3 linked regions of the Homo sapiens genome follow. The protein of the gene in region 3 interacts with the protein of the main gene of each other region in a biochemical or structural test. Each region holds a gene or a part of one and is shown on either strand. Other genes may lie near its edges.

Region 1 (3,650 bases), on a different chromosome or scaffold from region 3:
TGGTGGTGTGCACCTGTAGTCCCAGCTACTTGGGAGGCTAAGGCAGGAGGATGGCTTGAGCCAAGGAGTTTGAGGCTGAAGTGAACCATGATTGCTCCACTGCACTTCAGCCTGGGCAATAGAGCGAGACTCTGTCTCAAATAATAAAAGTAAATAGGCTGGGCGCAGTGGCTCACGCCTGTAATCCCAGCACTTTGGGAGGGCAAAGTGGGCGGATCACCTGAGGTCGGGAGTTCAAGACCATCCTGGGCAACATGGCGAAATCCTGTCTCTATTAAAAATAGAAAAATCAGCTGGTCATGGTTACAGGCACCTGTAATCCCAGCTACTTGGGAGGCTGAGGCAGGAGAATCGCTTGAACCCAGGAGGTGGAGGTTGCAGTGAGCGGAGATCACGCCACTGCACTCCAGCCTGAGGGATAGAGCAAGACTCTGTCTCCAAAAAATAAATAAAAATAAATAAAAGTTGTCAATAGATTACCAAAGAACTCACCAAAAAGATTGAGCTGAGCTCATTAATTCCTTGCTGTAGTGTGGGTTCTGTGGTGATTTTATTATTATAATGTAACACCAAGCCACATTGTCAGTTAGTAACTTCTCAAAATGTTGAGTCAGTGGACACCGGGTAGGGTAAAAAGTCTTTGTGCCTGGTGCGGTGGCTCATACCTGTAATCCCAGCACTTTGGGAGGCCAAGGCAGGCAGATCTGTTGAGCTTAGGAGTTTGAGACCAGCCTGGGCAGCATAGGGAGACCCCATCTCTACAAAAAAAAATGAGTAGGCTATGGTGGCTGGTGCCTGTAGTCCCCACTAAGGAGGCTGAGGTGAGAGGATCCCTTGAGCCCAGGAGGCGGAGGTTGCAGTAAACCAAGATCACGCCACTGCCCTCCAGCCTTTGCTACAGAGTGAGACCCTTTCTGAAAAATAAATAAATAAATAAAAGTGTGTTTACTCAAAGTATTGCAGATTGGATTTTATAAATATTTTTAAAATTTGCCAATTAGTATATGAAAACTCTGATTGTTTTAATTTGCATTTCTTTTCATATGTTTTAAATAGAGTAACATTTAAAATTTCTTTTGAAGGCTGGGTGCAGTGGCTCATGCCTGTAATCCCAGCACTTTGGGAGGCTGAGGTGGGAGTTTGAGACCAGCCTGGCCAACATGGCGAAACCCCATCTCTACTAAAAATGCAAAAGTTAGCCAGGCTTGGTGGCGCGCACCTGTAGTCCCAGCTACTTGGGAGGTCGAGGCAGGAGAATTGCTTGATCCTAGGAGGCGGAGGTTGCAGTGACCTGAGATCGTGACACTGCAGTCCAGCCTGGGCGACAGAGCTAGATGCTGTCTCAAAAAATAAATAAATAAATAAATAAATAAATAAATAAATAAATTTTGAGTGATTATTACATGTCGGGCTCTATCCAGAGCACTTAATGTATGTTATATATGTTGTCTAATTTAATCCTCAGTGGATCTTATAAGGTAGATATTCTCATTTTACAGATGAGAAAACTGGAGCTTGTTTCACAACTTTGCCCACAACTGTAGCTGTAAGTGTGAGGGGCCTGCCTCTAGAGACCATGAAGATTCAACACTAAGCTATACTGGACTGTTGTCATGTATTTTATTTTCTGTGAATTTTGGGAAGAAGAGAGTTAAATGGAAGAAAGAAAAAAAATCTTGCAAATACCTTTAGGATAGTAGTTTTTTTGGATACAGTAGACATTGTTTGAAATGAATGATTAAAGCTGTACTTACCTTTCTTAAAATTCACTGCTTGGGATGGGCTGGTAACAGTTTCGAGGTTACTCTCATTAGGCTTCAGTGTTAAGTACACTATACCCCATTTTCTTGGGAAGTGAACAGCAACATCTACTCTGTTAAAATCATTATACATTGTGTCTGCTTTCAGATTTCTTCCTTTTAGTAATTAGTGTTGTGTATGTGTTAGATTTTTTTTTGTCTTTACTGAAACACACCCTTTGGAATTCCTTTAGCGAATATGCTCTTTTGGGTGGATAACCTAATAAGCTTTCCTCTTTGAGTTTTCTGTTTTTTTACTCAGCACAGCCATGGAAGTAGGGATTTAATTTTCTGTCAAACTCTGCATCTCACAAAGCAATAGTTACTCAAAACACGACTTTCAAGAAGGTTATTCTTTTTAAGCTTTCAGCAGATGAGCTGAGTAGCAGCAGGAAAGCAGGTATTGAGAACTGTCTTGGTTTTTGTACTGCTGTTGAGTAGTAACATTGCAGCTGTCTTAAATCCTGAATGACACAGAAGCTTATGGCTGGTCGTACTACATAGCACCTTGAAAGTGACAGGGCTTTTCATTTCTATCTGATTTCTGTTTTTCAAAAATAAAACTCCTTATTCTTTTCCTATCATTGTAAATATTCTTCAGCTTCCTATCACTAATACATAGTCTCGGCATTAGAGACCAGTTAAAATAAATAGGCTGAGGAAAATCTTGATAGTAGGAGAGATTTTGGAGCATTCATTAAAAGTAAAAATAGGGCTGGGCGTGGTGGCTCACTCTCCCCTGTATTCCTAGCACTTTGGGAGGCCGAGGCAGGCAGATTGCTTGAGGCCAGGAGTTTGAGACCAGCCTGGGTCTTAAAAGGTAGATATTATTCTCATTTTACAGATGACGAAACTGGAGCTTGTTTGAAAAGTTTGCCCAAAATTGTAGCAGTTAGCGTGAGGGGCCTGCCTCTAGAGACCATGCAAATTCAACACTAAGCTATACTGGACTGGTCTCACATAGTGAGACCCTGTCTCTACAAAAAATAGAAAAAGTAGCCGGGCATAGTGGCCCACACCTGTAGTTCCAGCTACTTGGGAAGCTGAGGCATGAGGATTACTTGAGCCAAGGAGATCAAGGATGCAGTAAGCCATGACCATGCCACTGCACTCGTGCCTGGACAACAGTGCAAGACCCTGTCTCAAAAAAAAAGAGAAAAGAAAAAGTAAAAGTAGATACACAGGGAACTAGGCAAGTAAAAAATAGAACATTAAGCAGTTGCTAATGCTGGGAAAAATCTAAGGATTGTACAAAAAAGTATGATTGGGTCAGGCACAGCGGCCGATGCCTGTAATCCCAGCACTTGGGGAGGCCAAAGTGGGCGGATCACTTGAGGCCAGGAGTTCAAGACCAGCCTGGCCAACATGGTGAAATCCCGTCTCTACTAAAAATATAAAAAGTAGCCAGGCTTGTTGGCACATGCCTGTAGTCCCAGCTACAGGCCGAGGTAGGAGGATCGCTTGAACCTGGGAGGTGGAGGTTGCAATGAGCCGAGATCATGCCACTGCACTCTAGCCTGGGCAATCTTAGAGAACTCTATCTCAAAAAAGAAAAAAAAAAAAACACAAAAAGTATGATTGGTTTTAGTGCATTATTTAAATTATCAGTGAGTAGTATTTCATAACATACTACTGATTAAACCAGAATATGTGATATTACTGGTATAGGTCGGGGGAAACTAAATCTTCACCTTTCAGGCAATAGATAATGGCTGGAATAAACTGAGAAAGCAGTAAAAGCACATTCTTTAGAAATACTCTATCCATTTTGTGCATTGACCACAAGATTTAAAAAAAGAAAAATAAGTAAATACAAAGAGAAAGCAAAAAACAAAATCGAGAGTGATCGCC
Region 2 (3,650 bases), on a different chromosome or scaffold from region 3:
AAGGCCCAACCCAGGATCCACAGCTCAAGCTTATAACGACTCTCCTAACTCACACTCCTTCAGCTGTGTCAACCTGAAAGGTTTAGCTGTTCAAGAGAAAAAAAACTAGTTTCTTGCAAGCATTCCAAGGAGGTCCATCTTGAAGCCCAACCTGACAGAATGTGACCAGTAGACTTGGCCAAGCCCTTCCTTATGGCCCCAGGGAACTCCCAAGCTATGGCACCACAGGAAGCCTATGCAAGCTGAGGACCCAAGACAAGTTAAAAACAGGTTCAACGGAAAAGGCTGAGAATCACTGGCCCATTCTGTACCCATGCCTTTAAAAATAATACCCAGCTGCGCACGGTGGCTCACGCCTGTAATCCTAACACTTTGGGAGGTCAAGGCAGGTGGATTACTTGAGGTCAGGAGATCGAGACCAGCCTGGCCAACATGGTGAAACCCCCATCTCTACTAAAAATACAAAAAAATTAGCTGGGAGTGGTGGCGCATGCCTGTAATCCCAGCTACCTACTCAAGAGGCTGAGGCAGGAGAATGGCTTGACCCGGGAGGGGGAGGTTGCAGTGAGCTGAGATCGTCCCACTGCACTCCAGCCTGGGCAACAGAGCAAGACTCTGTCTCAAAACATAAATAAAGTTTAAAAAATAAGGCGCGGTGGCTCAGGCCTGTAATCCCAGCACTTTGGGAGGCCAAGGTGGGCGGATCACGAGGTCAGGAGCTCAAGACCATCCTGGCTAACACGGTGAAACACCTCTCTACTAAAAATACAAAAAATTAGCCGGGCATAGTGGCGGGCGCCTGTAGTCCCAGCTGCTCAGGAGGCTGAGGGAGGAGAATGACGTGAACCCGGCAGGCGGAGCTTTCAGTGAGCCGAGATCGCGCCACTGCCCTCCGGCCCGGCGTGGGCGACAGAGCGAGATTCTGTCTCAAAAAAAGAAAAAAAACACATAAAAATGACACCTAAGCCATTCCATATAATTTTCACCTATGCACTGTGTAAACAAAATATACTCTGTAGGCTAGATGCGATGGCTCACACCTGTAATCCCAGCACTTTGGGGAAGCCGAGGCGAGCGGATCACTTGAGGCCAGGAGTTCAAGACCAGCCTGGACAACGTGGCAAAACCCCGTCTGTACTAAAAATACAAAAAAATTGGCTGGGCATGGTGGCGCATGCCTGTAATCCCAGCTATTTGGGAGACTAAGGCAGGAGAACTGCTTGAACCCAGGAGGTGGAGGGTACAGTGAGCTGAGATCGCGCCACTGCACTCCAGACGGGGCAACAAGAGCGAAACTCCCTCTCAAACAAAACAAAACAAAACAAATAGGCCGGGCGCGGTGGCTCACACCTGTAATCCCAGCACTTTAGGAGGCCGAGGCAGGCAGATCACAAGGTCAGGAGATCGAGACCATCCTGGCTAACACGGTGAAACCCCATCTCCACTAAAAATACAAAAAATTAGCCGGGCGTGGTGGCGGGCGCCTGTAGTCCCAGCTACTCGGGAGGCTGAGGTAGGAGAATGGCATGAACCCCACGGGGCGGAGCTTGCAGTGAGCCGAGGTCGTGCCACTATACTCCAGCCTCGGTGACAGAGCGAGAAACTGTCTCAAAAAAAAAAAAAAAAAAAGCAATAACAATTTTAAAAAGCTTCTTCATCATTGACTTTAGATAGCAGATGTGTATTGTCTGAATAATAAAGCCAGTGGCACGATCTCAGCTCACTGCAACCTCTGCCTCCGGGGTTCAAGCGATTCTCGTGCCTTAGCCTCTCCAGCAGCTAGGATTACAGGCGTCCGCCACCACGCCCAGCTAATTTTTGTATTTTTTAGTAGAAACAAGGTTTCACCATGTTGGCCAGGCTGGTCTCGAACTCTTGACCTCAAGTGATCCACCCTCCTTGGCCTCTCAAAGTGCTGGAATTACAGGCATGAGCCACTGCGCCCGGCCTCTTCTTGCCATTCTTTAATTCTGGTCTTTAAAAAACCTGGGCTGGATGCGGCTGTATGTGCCTGTAGTCCCAGCTACTCACAGCCTGAGTCAGAAGGGCTGCCTGCCCCAAAGTTAAGGGCTGTAGTGCACTATGACTGTGCCTGTCAACAGCCACTGCACTCCAGTTTGGGCAACATAGTGGGGGGAAAAAAAAACAAAAAACACAAGGCCGAGGTGGGCGGATCACCTGAGGTCAGGAGTTCGAGACCAGCCTGGCCAACATGGTGAAACCCCGTGTCTACTAAAAATACAAAAAAAAAAATTAGCTGGGCACAGTGGCACATGCCTGTAATCCCAGCTACTCGGGAGGCTGAGGCAGGAGAATCACTTGAACCTGGGAAGCAGAGGTTTCAGTGAGCCGAGACTGCACCACTGCACTGTAGCAGCCCGGGGGGCAAGAGCGAAACTCCATCCAAAAACAACAAAACAAAAAACACCAAGTCTTAGACTCCAGGGCAGAGGCAAAGTATTGAGGATATTGAGGATACGGACCTCTATGTGCACTGCTGAGATGCCAAAAGAACGCTGGCTTTGAGAGTGTAGTGTAAAAGGGTCAGCTCTCAGGTCAGAATGCCTAGGTTCAACTTCTGAAAGTCATTTATTAGTTGTGTGACCTTAAGCAAGTTACTGAATCTATGAGTGTTTCCTCCTGTATAAAATGGGAATATTTTAATAAATGGAGATCATATTACTTATCTCACTAGATTGTCCTAGACAGTAAGTGAAATAAGGTACATAAAGTACTCAAAGTACCTGGCACAGAATAACCAGTCAATAAACATTAGTTATTAATATTCTATACGCCTCTCTAAAAAATTCAAGAAATTTCTCTGTGTGACTTCAAAAGGACTTGGTGAGGGGGAGAACAAAGATTCAGTACTTAGTACTTGAGATTTGTGAGGTACAAAGTAATTCTGAGGTTATACAGACAGGCCAGGCGCTGGTGGCTCACGTCTGTAATCCCAGCACTTTGGGAGGCCGAGGTGGGTGGATGATCAGAGTTCAGCAGTTCGAGACCAGCCTGGCCAACATGGTGAAACCCCATCTCTACTAAAAAAATACAAAAATTAGCTGAGCATGGTGGTGGGCGCCTGTAATTCCAGCTACTCAGGAGGCTGAGGCAGGAGAATTGATTAAACCTAGAAGGCAGAGGTTGCAGTGGGCCAATATCGCGCCATTGCGCTCCAGCGTGGGAGACAAGAGTAAAAACTCGGTCTCAAAAAGAAAAAAAAAAAAAAAGACAGCAACTGACCAGGCACAGTGGCTCACACCTGCAGTTCCAAAACTTTGGGAGCCTGAAGCATGAAGTCTATTGAGATCAGGAATTTGAGACCAGCCTGGACAATACCGTGAGACCCCTCATCTCTACAAAAAAATTTTCAACAGTTAACCAGGCATGGTGGATACGCCTGGAGTCCCAGCTACTCAGGAGGATGAAGTGGGAGGATGGCTTGAGCCCAGGAGGTCAAGGCTGCAGTGAGCTGTGTTCATGCCACTGCACTCCAGCTTGGGTGACAGAGGCTCTGTCTCAGAAGAGAGAAAAAGACAGCAACTGAATCGTAGAAAATGGGGTACAACATGGCAGAAAGAATTATCACAATACTCGTGAATTTTCCACACCCCATCCATAAACTTTGGCAATCTTCACCGTCTTTCCTC
Region 3 (3,650 bases):
TGGGACCCATTTTAAGAAGCAAGAACCTAGAAGAGGCATTGGCCAACTTTTGCAGGAAAGGGAAGGGCCTGACAGTAAATATTTCAGGCTTTGCAGGCCACTCAACACTATTCCTCTCTGCCTTTCTGGTGGGAAAGCAGCCATAGGCAACCCAGAAAGCGAATGGGAGTGACTGTGTTACCAGTGAGACCTTCCTTACAAGCACAGGCGGGAGGTGGCTGGCCCCTGCCCTCGGTCCCTGTGCACCAGGTTGGATCTGGAAACGCTGGTGTCAGTGGAGAGTTGCTGGCTTCAGAGAGCAGTAACAAGGGCAAGAAGTCTTCATAAGTGTAGGAGTGCAAGCCTGTGTGTTTGTGTAGGATGTGTGTGTGAGTAGGTCTGTGTATGTGAGTTTGTGTGAGTGACAGCGTGCATGTGAGTGTGTGAGCCTGTGTAGGTGTGTGAGAGTTTATGGATGTGTGTTTGTGAGCATGTTTATGTGAGTCAATGTGTGAGCGTACCACCCCATATCTATGAGTGTGTGTCTATATGTGTGTGAATCTATGCATGTGTTTGAGTGTGTCTATGTGAGTCTATGTATGTGAGTCCGTGTATGAGTGTACCACCCATATCTATGTGTGTGAGTGTCTGTATGTGTGAGTCCATGCATGTGTGTTTGTGTGTGTTTATGTGAGTCTACATATGTGAGTCCGTGTGTGAGTGTACCACCCCGTATCTATGAGTGTGTGTGTGTCCATGCATGTGTTTGTGAGTGTATTTATGTGAGTCTATGTATGTGAGTCCGTGTGTGTGTACCACTCCATATCTATGAGTGTGTGAGTGTCTATGTGTGTGTGTCCATGCATGTGTGTTTGTGAGTGTGTGTTTATGTGCATCTGTGTGTGAGTGTACCACCCCGTATCTATGAGTGTGTGAGAGTCCATGCATGTGTTTGTGAGTGTGTTTATGTGAGTCTATGTATGTGAGTCCATGTATGAGTGTACCACCCCATATCTATGAGTGTGTGAGTATCTGTGAGTCCATGTGTCTGTGTTTGTGAGTGTGTGTTTATGAGAGTCTAGGTATGTGAGGGTGGGTGTCCGAGTGCATGTGCATAAGTGCTAGAGCCTCTCTGTGTGTTTGTGTGTGTGTGTGTGTGTGCCCGTGTGTGCACGTGGGGTGGTATACACACAGGGCTCCAGGGCTGGCATCAGGGGCGAGGCCAGTGGTTTTTGGTGGTTGGAGTCAGTGGAGTCAGGAACAGGACAGAGTCCCAGAGATAACAGGAAATAGAAGAATTGCTGCAATCGAACGTGCAAAGCTCTCTCAACTTTTCTGCTGACAAACCGCAAACTGCCCGCGTCCACCCCCACTCGTCCCCCTTCCTTCCTGCCACAGTAGAAGGGTGGGGCTGGCGTGGCTATCCTGGCTGCGCCCACGCCCTCCTGCTGCCCAGCAACCGCCCCGGGTGTGGATTCCATCGCTCCCTGGGCTTCCAGTCCCTCCCACCAGCCCCTGCCCCGCTGTGCAGAATATGCTCGGACCTCCTAGGGCCACATAAAACCACCCCCTCAGCCAGACCAGTTCCTGGTCATCCTGGCCTCAGGGCTGGGCACTGGGTCAGCTTCTGAGCAGGCAGGAGCTCTGCTCATGTGGACCTGACACACATTGCATGAGCAGACGGGAGGAAAAGAAGCCAGTTCCTGGGAGGGAGTGCACTGGCGAAGGAGTGTGTGGCGTGGGCAGAGAGCAGAGGTCAGGGGCCTCCCTGAGAAGGGCAGTGCGACTGGCATCTGAGGGGTGAGGAGAAAGGCCTGGCCAGAGTCCCAGCTTTATGACCATTGCAGGGCAGCTTCTGGGCTGTGCAGCTCACACACACCTTCCCCTCCTTCCCCTCCTTCCCCTCCTCTCTGCCCTGGGGCCAGCCTCCCTCCTCCACTCCCCTGAAATGGCTCCCAGCCATAATTAGCACAGGACAGAAACAGCAAATGCTGGTCGGTGTGGTAGGCTCACGCCTGTAATCCCAGCACTTTGGAAGGCCGAGGCCGGTGGATCACTTGAAGTCAGGAGTTCGAGACCAGCCTGGCCAACATGGTGAAATCCCATCCCACTAAAAATACAAAAATTAGTTGGATGTGGTGGTGCGCACCTGTAATCCCAGCTGCTTGGGAGGCTGAGGCAGGAGAATCGCTTGAACCCGAGAGGTGGAGGTTGCAGTGAGCTGAGATCATGCCACTGCACTCCAGCCTGGGTGACAGAGCGAGACTCTATCTCAAAAAAAAAAAAAAGTCCTTAGAACAACCAAGGCCTTTCTAAGAGTGTGCCCTAAGCAAGGCTGTGTGCTGAATGCTTTGAATCATCTCATTTGATATAAACACCCTGCTAGGCACGATGGCTCATGCCTATAATCCCACACTTTGGGAGGCCAAGGTGGGAGGACCTCCTGAGACCGGGAGTTTGAGACCAGCCTGGGCAACATAGGAAGGTACCATTTCTACAAAAAAAAAAAAAAAAAAAATGGCATAGTAGTGCATGCCTGTGGGCCCAGCTACTCAGGAGGCTGAGGTGGGAGGATCACTTAAATCTGGGAGGTCAAGGCTACAGAAAGCCATGATTTTGCCACTGCACTCCAGCCTGGGCGACACAGACTTTGTCTCAAATTAGAAAAAAAAATACAAACACTCGGGCAGGGACTCTTATTATTCCCATTTGCAGATGAAGAAACAGAGTCTATGGAGATGATCCATAACTTGCCCAAGGCCCCGGGATAAGAATGTGGTGGGCAGGGATTGAAACCAGGCTGTCGGGACTGGAACCAGTTGCTCAGTTCCAGGTCACCCTCCCAGGTTGCGGGCAGAGGGGCAGGGCTGGAGAGCTAGGTGCAGTGGAGAGGGCTGGAGGGCAGAAAGCCTGTGTACTCCCCCACTGGGTCCTGACAAGGTTGAGCCAGGTGATATCCAGGGGTCCCTTCAGCCTATGGCCTATCCAGAGCTGTCCAACCAAAAGAAAATGGGGCCGGGTGCCGTGGCTCACGCCTGTAATCCTAGCACTTTGGGAGGCTGAGGCAGGCAGATTGCCAGAGCTCAGTAGTTTGAGACCAACCTGGGCAACACGGTGAAACCTCGTCTCTACTAAAATACAAAAAATTAGCTGGGTGTGGTGGTGGGTGCCTGTAGTCCCAGCTACTCCTGAGGCAGAGACAGGAGAATTGCTTGAACCTGGGAGACGGAGGTTGCAGTAAGCAGAGATCGCGCCACTGCACTCCAGCCTGGGAGACAGAGTGAGACTCTGTCTCCAAAAAAAAAAAAAAAAAAAAGAAAGAAAGGAAGAAAAGAAAATGATGGGAGCCAAATAGATCATAAATAAATAGATTTATGATCAAAATAGATTACAATTTGATTTATTACAATCAATAGATCAAATTTTCTAGTAGCCACATTAAAAAGAAAACAAGTGAAATTAATTTCAATAATAGATTTTATTGAATTTCATACATCCAAAATACAATTATTTCAATAGATATTTAATGTAAAAGGTTATTAGATATTTTACAGTCTGTGTTTCTTACCAAGGCCACAATTCCAATGTGTATTTTACACTCACAACCTGTCTCATTTTGTACCAGCCACATTTCAGGTGTTTGATAGTCACATGTGGCCTGTGCCTGTATT

The links.
Region 1: the proteins of INPP5D (region 3) and GRB2 interact in a test that uses a peptide from one of them, tested with the Homo sapiens proteins (2 studies listed by BioGRID).
Region 2: the proteins of INPP5D (region 3) and CRK interact in a test that uses a peptide from one of them, tested with the Homo sapiens proteins (one large-scale study listed by BioGRID and IntAct).

The regions. Positions count from the first base shown.
Region 1 is NC_000017.11:75,395,554-75,399,203, reverse strand, and holds part of GRB2 (growth factor receptor-bound protein 2), read left to right. Parts: intron 1-3,650. UniProt on the Homo sapiens protein: Non-enzymatic adapter protein that plays a pivotal role in precisely regulated signaling cascades from cell surface receptors to cellular responses, including signaling transduction and gene expression.
Region 2 is NC_000017.11:1,449,583-1,453,232, forward strand, and holds part of CRK (adapter molecule crk), read right to left. Parts: intron 1-3,650. UniProt on the Homo sapiens protein: Involved in cell branching and adhesion mediated by BCAR1-CRK-RAPGEF1 signaling and activation of RAP1.
Region 3 is NC_000002.12:233,164,731-233,168,380, forward strand, and holds part of INPP5D (phosphatidylinositol 3,4,5-trisphosphate 5-phosphatase 1), read left to right. Parts: intron 1-3,650. UniProt on the Homo sapiens protein: Phosphatidylinositol (PtdIns) phosphatase that specifically hydrolyzes the 5-phosphate of phosphatidylinositol-3,4,5-trisphosphate (PtdIns(3,4,5)P3) to produce PtdIns(3,4)P2, thereby negatively regulating the PI3K (phosphoinositide 3-kinase) pathways.